Linked DNA regions of Homo sapiens. The protein of the gene in region 4 purifies or fractionates together with the protein of the main gene of each other region. This does not show direct contact. Each region holds a gene or a part of one and is shown on either strand. Other genes may lie near its edges.

Region 1 (3,519 bases), on a different chromosome or scaffold from region 4:
CTGTACATGACCCTGAGCTGTGGTGTGGGCGTAAGAGGGGGAGACCGTGACATCCACCATCCCATCTTTCCCATTGATCATGAATCTGGCTAGCTGGGCAGTAGTGTCCCCTCACTTCCTCTTCACTTGGGGATTTTGCTCTCCCTAAACATTTGAATTTGAAGATGAAAGCTGTTCTTTGTTCAAGCATGTATGAGTGGACGCCCTACCCTCCTGGAGCGTCCATACACATAAGTACAATGCCAGAATACTTTCATTTTTGAAAGTAGGAAAACCAAATGGCCTTTGAAGGGGAAGTGGGCTTGGACTGCTGCCTTGGCATTTTATTTCAACCATATCCAGAAGCTGGCTGAACTCTAAATGTGGTTCACTCAAAAGCAAGATAAAGAATTTTTATCCTGCTTGGCTAATCCCTGTCAAGGCCCTGTCAAGGGATCTTAAAATTTAGTCAAAAAAGTATTTTGAAAACATTAGTCATTTGCTATATCACTAATTCGTAAAAGGCTGTTAGGCTGTGCTATAAATTCTGATTTTGTAAGTGAAAAATATAATTTGTACTTATTATTACGGGCTGAGGTAATGTTAATTTTCACCATGCTATAAATGCAATGAGGTAATTTGTATGTCTCCAGGAATCTTCTTCTTTGTTTTAAATCTTGTGTTTATTTGGTGTCAGTTGAAAGATATAAACCTTGTTCTGTGGTCTTTAGACATTGTACTTTAGTCTTAAAGGACTCACCAGTGAACTAGAAGATCTCATTGCCTCTCTCCAGGATAACAGTATGACCCTTTTGATGAAAGGCTGAAACAGTTTCTTAAAATCGTAACTTCCCAGAGCAATTCAGATTTATAAACCTGATGGACACTTAAAAGGATTTTGCTTAAAGGATAATTCAGGGTTGTGAGAGCTTGATGGCTTTGCCTACAGCCTGTTTTTCTTTCAAGCTCCATCGGCCTTTCTGGAATCAGTGTTTGATTCATGATTGAGTCAGGCCTCCAACCCTCTAAGCCACAGGTGAAACAATCTTTGATGTCTGGAAAGTTTTAATTTATTAGAGTGTTGGTGTTTCAGAGATCCTCCTTAGCTGTAGACAGAAAGCCGTAGTTAAACAGAACAGGTTGGCCCCAAAGTTGGGTACTCACTGGGCAGGGGAAAAGAGCATTTACCATGGAAAAACTATCTTGTTCTGGGTAAAAACAAAAATTAACACTCCTTGAGAGAAGGTTGAGGGCCACCTGTGGCTGACAGGTTAAATGAGAGATTTGTCATCACATGATCCAGAGCCTTGTTTTGTTTTGTTTTTATTACCTTCCTCTTTCTCTATTTAATCACATAGCTGTCTTTTTACCTCTTTACAACCAAGTATTTAGGCAAATACTAACAGAAAACGACTCAGAGTCATTTATACCCTGGAGCTGCACTGTGGAATTCAGTAGTGACTGGCCACAGTGAGCACTTGGAAAGTGGCTACTGAAACTGACAAGCTAAATTTTAAGTTTTTAAAAAATATTTAGTTGTGTTAAAAAAAAAAAAAAGCATGTAACGTAAAATTTACCATTTTAATCATTCTAAAGTTCAGCAGTGTTAAGTATATTCATATTGAAGTGCAACCAATGTCCAGAACTTTTTAAGTCCTGCAAAACTCAAACTCTATACCCATTAAACAACTCCCCATTTCCCCCTCCCCCCAGGCCCTGGCAGCCACTGTTTTAATTTCTGTTCCTATGAATTTAGCTACTTTATAGACCACATAAAAGTGAAATCATGCAGTGTTTGAATTTTTGTGCCTGGCTTATTTCACTTAGCATAATGTCCTCAAGGTTCATTCTTATTATAGCATATGTCAGAATTTCCTTCCTTTTTAGGGCTGAATTATATTCCATTATATTTGTATACCACATTTTGTTTATCAGTTCATGTGTTGGTGAACATTTGGGTTGCTTTCACCTCGTGGCTATTGTGAATAACGCTGCTATGAACATGGGAATATAGATATCTCTAGAGATTGTTCTTTCAATTTCACTTGATATATAGGGATTGCTGGATCATATAGTAATCCTATTTTCAATTTTTTGAGGAGCCTCCATGCCATTTTCCACAGCAGCTGTACCATTTTACATTCCCACTAACAGTGCACAAAGATTTCTGTATCTCCACATTCTCGCCAACAATCGTGATCTTGTTTTTTGATAACAGCCACCTTAAGGAATGTGAGGTGATGTCTTGTAGTTTTGGTTTGCATTTCTTTAATGATCAGTGATGGTGAACATATTTTCATATGCTTGTTGGCTTTTCATGTGTCATCGTTAGAAAAATGGCAATTCCAGTCTTTGCTCACTTTTTAATGGGGTTATTTTGTTTTTGTTGAATTGTAGAGTTATTTATATATTCTAGTAGTAACCCCTTATTAAATATATGACTTACAGATACTTTCTTCTATTCCATAGGTTGCCTTTTTACTCTACTGATTGTTTCCTTTGATATATAGAAGTGTTTAAGTTTGATGTTGTCCCATTTGTTTATTGTTAATTTATTGACACTTTATTGCCTACGCTTTTAGTGTTATATCCAAGAAATCAGTACCAAACACAGTGTCATGAAGCTTTTCACTTATGTTTTCTTCTAGAGGTTTTATAGTGTTAAGTCTTACATTTAAGTCTTTAATCCATTTTGAGTTAACTTTTGTATATTTTAGAAGGTAAGAGTCCAACTTCATTCTTTTGCATTTGGATATCCAGTTTTCCCTGCATCATTTGTTGAAGAGAATGTCCTTGTTTCATTGAGTGGTGTTAGCTTTTGACCATATACACAAGGGTTTGTTTCTGGGCTCTGGATTCTATTCCATTGGTCTATATATCTTTTTTTTTTTTGAGACAGTCTCACTCTGTCACCCATGCTGGAGTACAATGGCACAATCTCAGCTCACTGCAACCTCTGCCTCCCAGGCTCAAGCAATTCTCATGTCCAGCCTTCTGAGTAGCTGGGAATACAGGCATGTGCTACCACGCCCATCTAATTTTTGTATTTTTAGTAGAGAGAGGGTTTCGCCATGTAGGCCAGGCTGGTCTTGAACTCCTGACCTCAAGCGATCCACCCATCTCGGCCTCCCCAAATGCTGGGATTGCAGACATGAGTCGTAGTGCCCAGCCCCATATATCTATATCTGTCTTGATACCATTACCACACAGTACTGATCACTGTAGCTTTTCACCAATTGAGTATCTCTAATTCAAAAATACAGAATGCTCCAAAATGTGAAACTTTTTGAATACCAACATGACACTCAAAGGAGATGCTCATTGGAGCATTTCACATTTCCAGTTATATGGATTAAGGCTGCTAAAGCAGTAAGTGTTAATGCAAGTATTCCAGAATCTGAAATCTGCACACTGTAATCCCAATCATTTTGGATAAGGGATACTCAACCTGTAATATGTTGTGAAATCAGGAAATGTAAGAATTCCAACTTTGTTCTTTTTCAAGATTATTTTGGTTCTTCAGGATCCTTTGAAATTTTC
Region 2 (3,519 bases), on a different chromosome or scaffold from region 4:
ATATTTAAATAAGAAAAAGTCTTCTTATTGCATATAAATGCTCATCCAGAGATTCTGTCCTTTCCTCACAAATCATCTGATGATGAGTCAAGATAATATGGCTATTTATGCTTTTGAAGGTACTTATTTTAAAAACAACCATAATAGATTTTTAAAAACCACAACTTACCTCCTTTAGCTTATCCACATCATCTTTCACTTTTTCATAGATTTCATTAGCTGTTCTGAGTTTTTTCTTCCACTCTGCTACAGTTTCTGGGTTAATTTTACTTGGATTATCTGTGACTAGATGTTTGTCTTCATTTTGGTTGCCCTGCACCAAGGTTAAAGGATCCAGAATAGTTTTGATCTGTGACTCCAAGCTGAGATTTTTACTCTTAAGCTCTTCTACTTCTTTCTGTAAACAATCTATTTCGTCCTGAAAAAGCATTGCATAGTCATGAGGCAGGCATAGACACTAAACACATACATACATATGCTAAACTGAAGCCAACATGGTTTGAATTTTGTACTTAAAATTCTGTAGATACATAGATTCTTTACATATCAAAAGAGTTTTGCAGGGAGAAAGTCACATACAGTTTAAATTCTCAAAATGTGGCCTGACTGATAAAAATTGGGATTTATGTTGCCTTCATTTTAATTCAATGTTAGTTGTGATTTTTAAAAATGCCAAATCTTTGATTCTATTTAAGATATCATCCAGGTGGAGAAATAGGAACACTTTTACACTGTTGGTGGGACTGTAAACTAGTTCAACCATCGTGGAAGTCAGTGTGGCGATTCCTCAGGGATCTAGAACTAGGAATACCATTTGACCCAGCCATCCCATTACTGGGTATATACCCAAAGGACTATAAATCATGCTGCTATAAAGACACATGCACACGTATGTTTATTGCGGCATTATTCACAATAGCAAAGACTTGGAACCAACCCAAATGTCCAACAATGATAGACTGGATTAAGAAAATGTGGCACATATACACCATGGAATACTATGCAGCCATAAAAAATGATGAGTTCATGTCCTTTGTAGGGACATGGATGAAATTGGAAATCAACATTCTCAGTAAACTATCGCAAGAACAAAAAACCAAACACCGCATATTCTCATTCATAGGTGGGAATTGAACAATGAGATCACATGGACACAGGAAGGGGAATATCACACTCTGGGGACTGTTGTGGGGTGGGGGGAGGGGGGAGGGATAGCACTGGGAGATATACCTAATGCTAGATGACGAGTTAGTGGGTGCAGCGCACCAGCATGGCACATGTATACATAGGTAACTAACCTGCACAATGTGCACATGTACCCTAAAACTTAAAGTATAATTAAAAACAAAAACAAAAACAAAAACAAAACAAAACAAACAAACAAAAAAAAGATATCATCCAGAAAATAAGAAAAGTCACATGAATTCCAACAGGGAAGTAGATTCCATTTCAAAAAAGAACAAAAAAACAAAAAACTTGAGGCATACTCAACTGCTTTACTGAGGGGAATTTGAAAGTACATTGAGGGGGGCCGGGTTAAAAAAAAAAAAGGTACAGTTTGTCCCCACCTCATCCCCACATCTACAGGGGATTGGTTCTAGGACCCTTAGGGATACCAAAATCCATGGATGTTCAAGTTCCTGATGGAAAATCACTAGTGCTGTATTTGCATATAACCTACATACATCTTTCCATACATTTTAAGTCATCTCTAGATTATTTATAATAACCAATACAAAGTAAATGTCATACAAATAGTTATTAAACTACATTATTTTTATATATATTTATTTTTTTAATTTTCAATCTTGGTTGTTTGAATCCACAGATGATGAATCCTTGGATATGGTGGGCTGACTGTACAGAGTTATCAAGATGATCGTGCCTGTAATCCCAGCACTTCGGGAGGCCAAGGCAGGTGGGCCAGCTGAGGTCAGGAGTTCAAGACTAGCCTGGCCAACATGATGAAACCTCGCCTCTACTAAAAATACAAAAAATTAGCTGAGTGTGGTGGCAGGCACCGGCAGTCCCAGCTACTTGAGAGGCTGAGGCAGGAGAATTGCTTGAACCCAGGAGGCGGAGGTTGCAGTGAGCCGAGATCATGCCATCTGCACTCCAGCCTGGGTGACAGAATGAGATTCTGTCTCAAAAAAGAAAAAGAGGATTGTTAGGGTTTTGATATTTATACTTTCACTTCTATATTTGAAGTATGAGTGAAACCATCTACCATTTCCTTCTACTTTTCATTCCAGAATAATATCTGTAGTTAATTTTGAATTTTCAACTTTTCTGGATTCTGGTTCTTCAATTACTACTGTGACTATTGCAAGTATTAGCCTTCCCACTCTGGAAATGTTTATTATCCTAAAACCAGTCACTAAACATTTGGGTTAGAACTTCTTACTATGATGCCATTTATTCATCTATAATAAATATGTCACCTTAAATTGAGGTTGTTAAAAATTCTGCTAGAAAATAAACCCCCAAGTAGCTCAAGTGATCTCCCAAAGGATTAATTTGTTTACCATCTGAGTATGATAAATATTCATTATATAAAAATACATTTTAGCATTAAATGTCACACAGATAGTACTACTTACTATTTTAAATTGCAATACATTTCAACTTAAATAGCATTTTCATAAAACAAGCAAATTCATATATGTAAGGAACACATATATGAATAAACATATATTCAATCATGTATTTATACCCCACTGCATTCCAAAAATTTTTGAGGCAGTTGAGGCACCTTCCATGTACACAGTTAAACTGAAAGATATTTTGAGTCAAGAGGGGATCGATATCTCCTTCTTCAGTCAACATAAAATGACAACTGGGCTTAATGTGTACTATTCAAAAGTGTATGTATTCTATTAGCATGAATTTATTTGTAAAAATAGCATCACCATGTCCAATCATCCTGTTCATTCACCTTTAGACAATAATTAGGAAACAGCATGTTTCACACTAAAATCTCTGTGCTGGCAGTTGACATAAGGTATAGTATTTACTTTACTAGAATTGATCAGGCTTATAATCATCAGTAACTTCATAGGCAGAAGCAACTGATGACTGCAGAGGTCAGACTGGCTTTCACAAGGAGATTTCCTTTTTCTCCCAACTTCTTGAGGAAGCAAATACAAAATGATATGTCTGTGGAGGTACAAATTTTAACTTAAAAAAAAAAAAAAAAGAAAGAAATGCTTCCATCTGTTCCTTTTTTCTGGAATCCCATTCCCCCATTCCTTGGTACTTAAAGAAAAAAAATAAAACAAAAAATCTCTTTCCTCTATTTAAAATACGAAAGGAAAAAAGAAAAAAGAATTTATCAAACAATTTCTTTTTATAGGCTTTTAAAATAAAATTTCATTGGATATTTACTCTAAGAAGTCTGGGGACTGAGGTAGGTCAGTTTTTACCTTGAATTCACTGCTAACATAATTTTAAACTTTGATTACTGTTTACCTCATATTCTTTGTGTAGTAATTCAAGTCTAGTTTTCCGAAGATGCTTCCT
Region 3 (3,519 bases), on a different chromosome or scaffold from region 4:
GATATCCATTGGCCACACACTCAGGATCTGTATGTACACTTGTCTATACGCATGTTACATGTCAATAAAAAGTGAAAACAGCCTAATTCCGAAATCAAAAGTCATGAGTCAAAAACTCAGTTGCAGATGATGACTTAGTGTTCAGGCTGTCAAATCTACATGGCATGAACCCATTTCATCACAGCGACTCTGGGGCCGGCCAGTATTAAGAGAAAAAAAAAAAACAATGTAACATTTGCACTAAAATGTCATCACAGCCTGATTGGAGAGGGACGTCATCATCTCTCATTTTACTGGAATTAGAGAAGAGAGAAGCTGCCTGGGACCATCTTACCCCCCTTTCTAGGAAAACGTGTGAGAGCTAACACGAGGAAGTGAAGTGAAGGGATGAAGGAAGGAGACAGGGAGGCGGGAAGAGAGAGACACACACAGACCAAGCCATACCTCAGGACCTGCCTATTTTTTCAGCCACAGAGATTATCCCTTTCTTTTCATAACTTAACTCATTTGAATTAGATTCCTTTTTTTTTTTTTTTCTGAGACAGAGTCTCGCTCTGTCGCCCAGGCTGGAGTACAGTGGCGCAATCTTGGCTCACTGCAAGCTCCGCCTTCCGGGTTCACGCCATTCTCCTGCCTCAGCCTCCCAAGTCGCTGGGACCACAGGTGCCCGCCACCACGCCCGGCAAATTTTTTGTATTTTTAGTAGAGACGGGGTTTCACCATGTTAGCCAGGATGGTCTTGATCTCCTGACCTCGTGATCCGCCCGCCTCAGCCTCCCAAAGTGCTGGGATTACAGGCGTGAGCCACCGTGCCCGGCTGATTTTTTTTAATTTGTTGATTCTTTTTTTTTTTTTTTTTTTTGAGACCAGGTCTCTGTCACCCAGACTGGAGTGCAGTGGTGCGATCTCAACTCACTGCAACCTCCGCCCCCCAGGGTAAAGCGATCCTTCCACCTCAGCCTCTCAAGTAGCTGGGACTACAGGCACACGTCACCACATCCAGGTAATTTTTGTAGAGACAGGGTTTCGCTATGTTGCCCAGGCTAGGTCTCAAACTCCTGAGCTCAAGCGATCCATCCACCTTGGCCTCCTCCCGAAGTACTGGGATTACAGGCTTGAGCCACTGTGCCCGGCTAATTTGTTGATTTCTTAATGCATCATCTACCTTTTTTTTTGAGACAAGTCTGGCTCTGTTGCCCAGACTGGAGTGCAGTGGTATGATCTCGGCTCACTGCAACCTCTGCCTCCCTGGCTCAAGCCATCCTCCCACCTCAACCTCCCGAGTAGCCAGGACTACAGGTGCACACCACCATGCCCATCTAACTTTTGTATTTTTTGTAGAGACAGGATCTCCCTATGTTGCCCAGGGCTGGTCTCAAACTCCTGAGCTCAAGCAATCCATCTGCCCTGGCCTCCCAAAGTACTGGGATTACAGGCACTCAGGGATTACATGAGCCCACCATGCTTGGCCTTGAATTAGATTTCTATCACTCAAAAGTGAAAGTGCCCCCAACTAATACACACACCAATGCAGGTTCCTTATTTTCTTCATTCACTTCAGCCTCAGTCCAAATGTGTTGGGGGGACCCCTTGGCCCTGCCGTGTGGTGGAAGCTTGGAGAAGGGAAACTGGAGGGGGACTCACCGGACACCAGGTGGCTGGCCCAGACGGGCCCCCCTGGCCAGCTGGCTGCCCTGCCAGGCGCCATCTTCTCCATCAGACTCCCCTGAGCCCTGGGCCTCTTCCTCGTCCTCCTCTTCCTCATCATCATCAAACTGCTGGATGCGGTCCTTGTAGCATATCTCAAGTAGGTTGGCGTTGGGCTGCAGGGCACAGGGGTGGGAGGATGGGCCACACTGCCCACAGCCCCACACCCCTCCACCCGCCACAACCAGGGGACAGGGCAGTACTCACGTTCTCATCGTCAGCATTGAGGGAGAAGGTGATGTTGGCTGTCTTGTCAAAAGGTGCGCTAGGAGAGAAGGCAAGGCATGGTGAGAAGGTCCACCTGGGGGTGGGGGCAGCACAGGACAGGCCACATTTCTTTCTTCACTCAACACAGAGCTGACCCTCATTACTTGCAGATTTGGTATCTGCAAATTCACACACAACCCGAACCACTGGTCCTAAGGGGCAACGCATACATGAATATCAACATCTCACATATGATCACTTTAAATCCTTAAAACCACTCATTGAGGTAGGCTGTTTCCCTTGGCTCTAGAAGTGAGAAAATGGGGCTCGGAAATGTTAAGCGACTCTCCTCAGGCTCTTCCAAGGACAGGTGCCAGAGAGGGATTCAGATCCATGCCCTTGTCCCCATCCTTGGGGCATCTGTAGGAGGCTGACACTCACACCAGCCAGGCACAAGCAGAATGTGAGACTACAGCCCAATAAAGCACATCCCCTAACCTCAAGATGTCTACGGTCCGCGGCTGAAATTCTAAATTATGGGAAAAAGAATCACGTCAAAACTTAAACTGTGCCTGCCAGGGCCCCACCTCCCTCACCACGAGGGTCTAATGATCAGGGTCCACATTCTGTCCCACGTGTTACGGACAGTTCAAGGGATCATTTGTCTCAAATTCATGAAAAATTCTGCCACAAAGATCAATGGATAAAGGACAGTTAATTCTTAAAGGACACTAAGTATGTGACAGACATTACTCACGCACTTCATTCTCACAACCACCTTCCAAGGCAAGTGTCCTTAGTCCCTCCTAGACACTGAGAAGCAGCGGAGCAGAGACCACGCTGGGCACACAGTGGGTCTAGGGCAGGGCAGCCCATGTCCCCGTGGCACTGGCAGCCTCAGCTGACCTGGCTTCTGCTACAGGAGCTATGCGGGGCAGCATCTTCAGCCTTGAGATGATCAAACCAGTCATCCACTTTCCATTCCGGAAATCTTTCTGGGTTTAGTTTTGTTCACTTAACTTCTTAACCCCTCTGGAATTTTCTTGGTAGAGGAAAAGCTAACAGTTTCATCCCGAAAGGGGCAGCTGGTGACCCCAATGCCATCTACCAGTCAGTCCCTTCATTCTCCTGCCAGGGTGGGGTTTTCTTCTTTTTTTTTTTAATTAAAAAAGCAGAGATGGTCTCACAATGTTGCCCAGGCTGGGCTGAAATTCCTGAACTCAAGCGATCCTCCTGCCTCGGCCTCCCTAAGTGCTGGGATTAAGATGTGAGCCACTGTGTCCAGCCCAGTTTTCACTTGAGCATCTTCTCCAGGGGTCTCGGCACAGGCCACTGACCCACAAAGACCAACGCTCTGCAAGTCTCCATGCTGGGCACAGAAGCAGCCAACACAGGATATCACGTCTGCATCTGAGAGGACCTCTGTCCAGCTGTGGACTAAGCCAGGAACAGCTGACTATCCCTCATCGTGGTGTCCCTTACGCTGTGCTGTACAGGGACCCCGGGGCAGCCATGGGCAGCCATCCAGCTCCCACACACTAACCAGCTATGTCCTGGGGCCTCAGTCTCCCTGGCCGTAAATGAGCTCATCGTGGGGAGCAAGAC
Region 4 (3,519 bases):
GAAACGGAGTCTCGCTCTCTCACCCAGGCTGGAGGGCAGTCACTGCAAGCTCCGCCTCCTGGGTTCACGCCATTCCCTGCCTCAGCCTCCCGAGTAGCTGGGACTACAGGTGCCCACCACCACGTCCGGCTAATTTTTTGTATTTTTAGTAGATACAGGGTTTTACCGTGTTAGCCAGGATGGTCTTGATCTCCTGACCTCGTGATCTGCCTGCCTCGGCCTCCTAAAGTGCTGGGATTACAGGTGTGAGCCACCGCGCCCGGCCTGGGTTGTAGCCTCTTTAGGGAGTGGGAACACCTGTGTTCCCCTCAGGACGTACGACCTCAACCCAAAAGAACAGATTCACTTGCTGGGGGAAAAATAAGGCTGCCCCAATTTATTAAAAGGAGACCTAGAAATTCTTTAACAATAATAATAATAAAGGATAGTCTTTGAGGCAGCAATTCACTTCTAGAAATTTATCCTGCAGATGATACCTAAGGTGGGCAAAATCATATGTATGAAGAAAGTCACTTCAGCAGAAGTGTTTAGAGAGTAGAATGCAGAAAATAACCCAAGTGTTTGTTAGCAGAGAGCTTGTTGAATAAATTACACTCACAGTGGGACACATCATAGCCACAAATGACCCAGACCTGCATGTGCCAAAGTGGAACTATCTCTAAGATAGTAAGTAAATCACAGCAAGCAATTGCATCCTTTCCCCTCTAGGATCTTGATTACAGAGCCTGGGAGGATATGCGGGGGCTGCTGTGGGCCCTCGACTACCTTCGAGGTCAGAGTCTCACCTGAGCAGGTGGAGGAGAAAGAAGTGCTCTTGTTTCAGATCATTTTCTCGTTTACTTTCTTTACACCACAAACCCAAGGACAAATCATGTAAAAAAATCTCCCAAATTCCAAAGGGCCTGTTTGAAGGCCCGCCCACCAGCACACCCCTCACTATAGTCCAATCCAGCTGAGGGACAGCTTCTGGCTCCCTTAGAACTTCAAGGGTCAAGGACACTGGGCAGCTTTCTCTCCCTTCCCTGAAGGTTCTGAGCAAGTCCTGGGTGGCCTCTGGCAGATATCAGTCCTTCCTGAGAAGAAGGACTGAATCTGCTGAGCCAGCTTCAGGCAGCAAATCCAATTTCCAGACCTCTCTCTAGATAAGATCTCCAGGGGGCACTGAGAAAGCCTCTCTCCCCTGAGGGTCTCTGCTGTTCAGGACCCCATCAGTGGGCTGTAGTATGCTGAATCGGGGTGGATATTGCCAGAGGGAAGGGTTGCTCTTAGGGCTATTGGAAGGCTGAAGATTTATCGCTTTATAGATGTGAAACATGAAGAGGTTCACCTCCCTGGTTAAATCTGGGCAGAGGAAAGGTGAAGGAAGGAAAGCTGCCCTTCTCCCAGGTGCTGATTCAGGCGAAAGCAAAGGGAAGCCTGGCCCAAGTCCAGACAGGGGTCTACAAGACCTTCCAACTGATCCTCTCCCGAGAGGGTGTGCCCAGGGTTTACTGAACGAAGCTGGCAGATTTCACTGGCCATTATCTTCTCCTTGAGCCATCCCTATCTCTGCACTATCATTCACTCTGTCACCCAAACCAAGGACCTCAAGGTTACCTGTCACCATTCCTCCTCCCTCTGGCATCACTTCCAAACACTCCCAGAGTCCAGTTGATTTCCCCCCAAACAGCTCATCTCTGCTCTTCTTCTCAACCCTATTGCCTCTGCCCTGATCCAAGCCCCTCTCAGCCCTTGCTGGGATTACTGCAACAGCCTCCTATGGGGACTCCAACCTCTCCCCAACCCACTCCATCCTCCAAAGCAGATGCAGGTCTAATGGTATGTTTCCTCCACTTAATGCAAGGCATCCATCACCAACAGAATACAAAATTCAAGCATCTGCGCCCTAGTGCCTGCCTACCTCTCAGGCACATCCTGCAGTCAGTCCCTTCACACTCTGGGCTAGAACTCCTGTGGTTCCTAAAGTGCCACACAAATTACCACATATCCGTGCTTGTGCCAGGCTGCTCCCCCTGCCTGGAGGGCTTCATAGACCCCCAGAAAACTCTATTCATTCTTCACGATCCAATTCAAGTTCTTTTTTTGAGACAGGGTCTCACTCTGTTGTCCAGGCTCGAGTGCAGTGGTGTGATTACAGCTTACTGGGAGTTGGGAACTCCCAGGTTCAAGTGATCCTCCCACTTCAGCCTTCCAAGTAGCTGGAACTACAGGTACATGCCACCACGCTTAACTAATTTTTTTCTTTTTTAATTTTTGTAGAGATGGGGTCCCACTATGTTGGCCAGGCTGGTCTTCAATTTCTGGGCTCAAGCGATCCTCCTGCCTCGGCCTCCCAAAGTGTTGGGATTACAGGTGTGAGCTGCTGTGCCCAGTCCCAGTTCAAGTTCTAAGGGCTCTCTGAAGTTCTCCCCAGTCTCCTCCTCATCCTAGAGCTCGATCACTTCTTCCACTGGGTTCCCCCACATGCTATAGACTTCTGTGAGAGACTTGCCAAACTGTGCACATGTTAACTGGTTAGGAGCCTGCCCCTAGATCACAACCTCCTCCATGGTAGGGCCTGCCTCTCCATCCTCCTCCTGCCCCCAGGACCCAGCAGAGCCCCAGCCACACATGGGAGCTCATGTATGTGGAATCAGGGCTCTGTATTTTGAGCTACCACACTCATCAGTGTGTGTGATGCCTCTTGATGCTGCTTATTCAGGTACCAGACTAGGGTTGCTAGCAGGGACACACAGAGAAGAAATTCTAAATACATTTACTCCCATGTATACTTTTTTTTTTTTGAGACAGGGTCTCACTGTGTCACCTAAACTGGAATGCAGTGGTGCAATCTCGGCTCACTGCACCCTTGATCTCCTGGGCTCAAGAGATCCTTCCACCTCAGCCTCCCTAGTAGCTGGGACTACAGGTGCGTATGACCATGCCCAGCTAATTTTTGTATTTTTTGTAGAGACGGGTTTCGCCATGTTGCCCAGACTGGTCTTGAACTCCTAGGCTCAAGCGATCTGCCCATCTCGGCCTCCCAAAGTGCAGGGATTACAGGCGTTAGCCACCGCGCCTGGCCAACCCATGTATACTTTAAAGTACTATTTTTTTCTCAGCAGTCCTACTTCTATTTTTAAAAATAGTTCTTTTAAAGAGCCAAACTGAATCATCTGCATGGCTCCCATACAGACTGGGTAAACTCCCCTTAGATTTTCTTTTCAGAAAGAATAAAATAAAACTCTGTGATCTTGTGATCCCTCAGGACACTTCTGACAGCTCAATGGGACATAGTTCTAGTTGCCATGAATTGCTGCAACTAATTCCTAAAAGTTCTTTCCTGTAGCCTGTAATAAGAGCTAACATTTACTACTCAGTGTCTGTTAAGTACTCATCCTGTAACATCTTACTTACTCCTCACAACTGCCCTATTACGAAGGTACTCTTATTGTCCCCATTTTACAGATGAGAAAGCTGTGGTGGAGAGAATAAGTAATCCCTAGTGACCAGCAGGGATAGAAGTAGAACACAGATCTG
Region 5 (3,519 bases), on a different chromosome or scaffold from region 4:
GGGAAAAAAAGAACCTGGTCTCTCATTTCATACACACACAAACTCAGATGAATTACAGACCCAAATGTAAAAGCTAAAGCTATAACCTCTTATAAGAAAACATCAGAGAAAATATTTATGCTTGTGGATCTTAGGAACAAAAAGTACTAAGCATTAAAAAAAAAATGGTGAAACAGACTTCATTAAAATTCAAAACTTCTGCTATTCAAAGGCCATTAAGAAAATTAAAAGGCAAGTCACAGACTGAGATGAATATTCATGATATATATATGGAAGGCAGAATAATGGCCCCCCAAGATGTCCATGTTATAATCCCTGGGATTATTTTACCTTGTATTGCAGAACAATTAAGTTAAGAATCTTAAAATGGGGAGTTATCTAGGTAAGGCCAATGTGATCAGTAGGGTCCTTATAAGAGGCAGGCAAGAGGGTCAAAGTCATAGAGAGAGACACTCATTGGAAGATGCTATGCTACTGGCTCTGATGATGAAGGAAGAGGCTACAAGCCAAATAATGTAGGCAGCCTCTAGAAGCTGGAAAAGGCAAGAAATGCCTCCAGAAGGAACACAGCCCTGCTGACACCTTGATTATAGCACTGAGTACCATTTCAGACTTCTCATTTCCAGAAGTATAAGATAATACATTTCTGTTGTTTTTATCTACTAAGTTTGTGACAATATGTTACAGCAGCAGTAAGAATACAACATACATATGGCAAAGAACCTGTGTCCAGAATATTTTAAAATTCTTATACCTCAATTCTTTAACAAGAAACCAACAATAACAAAATGGCAAAAGATGAATGCCCATACTTACAACAGAATGGCCAATACACATGTACAAAAAGTGCTCCAAAATAGTGGCCATCAGGACAATGTCGTGATTAAAACTATAATGAAGTAATACTCTGCCCGCTACCAGAATGACTAAGATGACAAATGCTGACAAGCAACAAGCATGAGGCGTTAGTAAAAATGTGAAATGACTGGAACTCTATACGTTGCTGGTAGACGCATAAAATGGTATAGCCATTTTGGAAAAAAGATATGGGCATGGGGGAACATGTCCCCCAAAAACTGTAAAAGAAGTGTTCCTAGCAGCTTTCTTCATAATAGCCAAAAATGAGAAACAACCCAAAATCCTGTCAGTGAATGGAAAAAACAAATGCAGCTTAGGTATATAATGAAATACTACTTGGCAATGAAAAGGAATTAACGAGTGATAAATGCAGGAACATGGACAAATCTCAAAAACATGCTAAGCAAAAGAAATGAAGCATACAAAGTCCACGATTACATTTTTCTGAAATTCTTCAACAGGCAAAACTAACCAATAATGACAGAAAGCATGTCAGTGGTTGCCTAGGGCCAGGGGTTAAGTTGGGAGGGGACTGACTGCAAAGTGGCACAGGCAGCTTGTGAAGTGAGGGGCGTGTTCCACATCTTCAATGTGGTGGTCGCCATATGGGGTATATATTTGTCACAACTCATCAAACTCTCCTTGAAGTGGAGGTATTTTACTGTATGTAAATCATACTTCTAAATCATACCTCAATAAAGTTTATTTTATTTTATTTATTTTTTTTTGAGACGGAGTCTCGCTCTGTCGCCCAAGCTAGAGTGCAGTGGTGCCATCTCGGCTCCTTGCAACCTCCACTTCCCAGGTTCAAGCGATTCTCCTGCCTCAGCCTCCTGAGTAGCACGAATTACAGGTGTGCGCCACCACACTCGGCTAATTTTTTATATTTTTTTTAGTAGAGACAGGGTTTCACCGTGTTATCCAGGATGGTCTCCATCTCCTGAACTTGTAATCCACCCGCCTCAGCCTCCCAAAGTGCTGGGATTAAAGGCGTGAGCCACCGCACCTGGCTAAAGTTGATTTTAAAAGAATAAAAGATCTACACCAAATAAAGCAATCTGTAGGTTTCTAAAGCTAAGTTCTCCCCCTCCCATCTGTAATATATGCCTACTTGTGCTGTAGAATAGAAGGAACACGAGTTGATGGGCAGCTTGGTGACAGATCTTAGGACAGAAACCGCACATGCTTACCTGGGGTGCTACATAATAAGGGGTGAACTGGGGTGTCATCAAGTCACCTTGGTCAATCTTGGCAAATCCAAAGTCACACAACTTCACTGGGGCATCCTGAAATTAAAAAAAAAAGGAGTCACTGCTCCAGAGTGCTCAGTAAACATTAAAGGAAAATCCAGGTGTAAGACATGTTACCCTGAGATCTAACAAGTTTCTTTCCAGCTGAGATGCGAACTTATGAAAATAACATGTCCCCAGGTCTGGAGACAATGATTCACACTGAGGAACTGTCCTTAGTAATGCAGAAGTAAGGAATTCCTACCCACTCACACAGCTATTTTTGCTTTAGAACTTGTAAGGGCAGCACTAACGTCAAGGTCTTGGCCTAGGGACCCTTCACTCTATAAGCCCATCACCTCTCATCAATCTGGGATGCTACTTCACTTTTAATATCTGCCATAAGCTTCATGATAGACAGAGCAACTTATCTGGTGAGACATGGGGCAGGGGACAGAGCTGAAAGGGAAAACAGCAAATGAAACGAGATAATATATAACAGCATACAGATTCCTGCCCCTTCCCAAAGGTCCTCCAAATAATATCCAAAATCATTAAGTCCCACAAATACATATCAGTATCATCCAAAATTATCAATGCCGGGAGTACAGTAGTACAGCTTCTCTGAGCCTCTAGCAAGGGAACGAGTTGAAGAAATAAGCTGTTTGAAGCACTTTGGCTTAAAGCTTTTTCACCATGAATTCAGAGCGCTCCAAACACACCCACTCCTGAACTATGTTAAGAGTTGCAGCACTAAAATGCAGAAAAACAGTCTTCTCACCAAAGAGTTATCCTTAAAAAGCAGATTTTCAGGCTTGAGGTCTCTGTGCGCAATGTTTAACAAGTGACAGTGCCGCAGAGCCAAAGCTATCTGAAAAAAGACACAATGAAACAGTCGCTTCTTAGAAAAGACCACTCTTTAATACACCTGGCGTAGAGAACTCAGGATGTCAAAAAACAAGCCTTCATTAAGACTGCGTTCACTTTCAATTTTAAAGCAGAAATTAAGAAAAACTTGGAATACCAAGAAACAGAATGGATTAAGCTTAGTTTAACTGCAACTTGTATTTTGTCAGACAGAAAGAAAAATATGATGGTACAGCAATTCTTTGTCAGAATAAACTGATGGGTAAATCCTGTAAGAAATGGGAAAAATGAAATGCTCCCACTTTCATTCATCTGAGGTATGACAGACACTGCAGAAGAAACACCTAAGCTGAGCAATGGTCAGCAGGCGCAGTTCCCACAGCAGGGCTCAGACAAGAATGGCACTCTCCAGGGAGCTGAGGGTCAAGAAATCAGCTGACTGGGTTTTTCCAATTCATACTGGAAACTCATTTTGCTCATCATGCTTGTTGAAAATGTTGCCTGTTTATGTGGATTTGAAGGGGTTTTATTTTATAGAAGATTATCAGAGCTCATCCTTTAATCC

What was found.
Region 1: the proteins of STK40 (region 4) and MAP7 purify together in Homo sapiens (affinity purification with mass spectrometry, with the first as the bait; one large-scale study listed by BioGRID). This does not show direct contact.
Region 2: the proteins of STK40 (region 4) and OBI1 purify together in Homo sapiens (affinity purification with mass spectrometry, with the first as the bait; one large-scale study listed by BioGRID). This does not show direct contact.
Region 3: the proteins of STK40 (region 4) and PPP6R1 purify together in Homo sapiens (affinity purification with mass spectrometry, with the first as the bait; one large-scale study listed by BioGRID). This does not show direct contact.
Region 5: the proteins of STK40 (region 4) and MAPKAPK5 purify together in Homo sapiens (affinity purification with mass spectrometry, with the first as the bait; one large-scale study listed by BioGRID). This does not show direct contact.

The regions. Positions count from the first base shown.
Region 1 is NC_000006.12:136,368,923-136,372,441, reverse strand, and holds part of MAP7 (ensconsin), read left to right. Parts: intron 1-3,519. UniProt on the Homo sapiens protein: Microtubule-stabilizing protein that may play an important role during reorganization of microtubules during polarization and differentiation of epithelial cells. Associates with microtubules in a dynamic manner.
Region 2 is NC_000013.11:78,638,654-78,642,172, forward strand, and holds part of OBI1 (ORC ubiquitin ligase 1), read right to left. Parts: coding exon 3,469-3,519; intron 419-3,468; coding exon 170-418; intron 1-169. UniProt on the Homo sapiens protein: E3 ubiquitin ligase essential for DNA replication origin activation during S phase.
Region 3 is NC_000019.10:55,234,999-55,238,517, forward strand, and holds part of PPP6R1 (serine/threonine-protein phosphatase 6 regulatory subunit 1), read right to left. Parts: intron 1,973-3,519; coding exon 1,915-1,972; intron 1,824-1,914; coding exon 1,645-1,823; intron 1-1,644. UniProt on the Homo sapiens protein: Regulatory subunit of protein phosphatase 6 (PP6). May function as a scaffolding PP6 subunit. Involved in the PP6-mediated dephosphorylation of NFKBIE opposing its degradation in response to TNF-alpha.
Region 4 is NC_000001.11:36,379,415-36,382,933, forward strand, and holds part of STK40 (serine/threonine-protein kinase 40), read right to left. Parts: intron 1-3,519. UniProt on the Homo sapiens protein: May be a negative regulator of NF-kappa-B and p53-mediated gene transcription.
Region 5 is NC_000012.12:111,869,710-111,873,228, reverse strand, and holds part of MAPKAPK5 (MAP kinase-activated protein kinase 5), read right to left. Parts: intron 2,959-3,519; coding exon 2,869-2,958; intron 2,145-2,868; coding exon 2,049-2,144; intron 1-2,048. UniProt on the Homo sapiens protein: Tumor suppressor serine/threonine-protein kinase involved in mTORC1 signaling and post-transcriptional regulation. Phosphorylates FOXO3, ERK3/MAPK6, ERK4/MAPK4, HSP27/HSPB1, p53/TP53 and RHEB.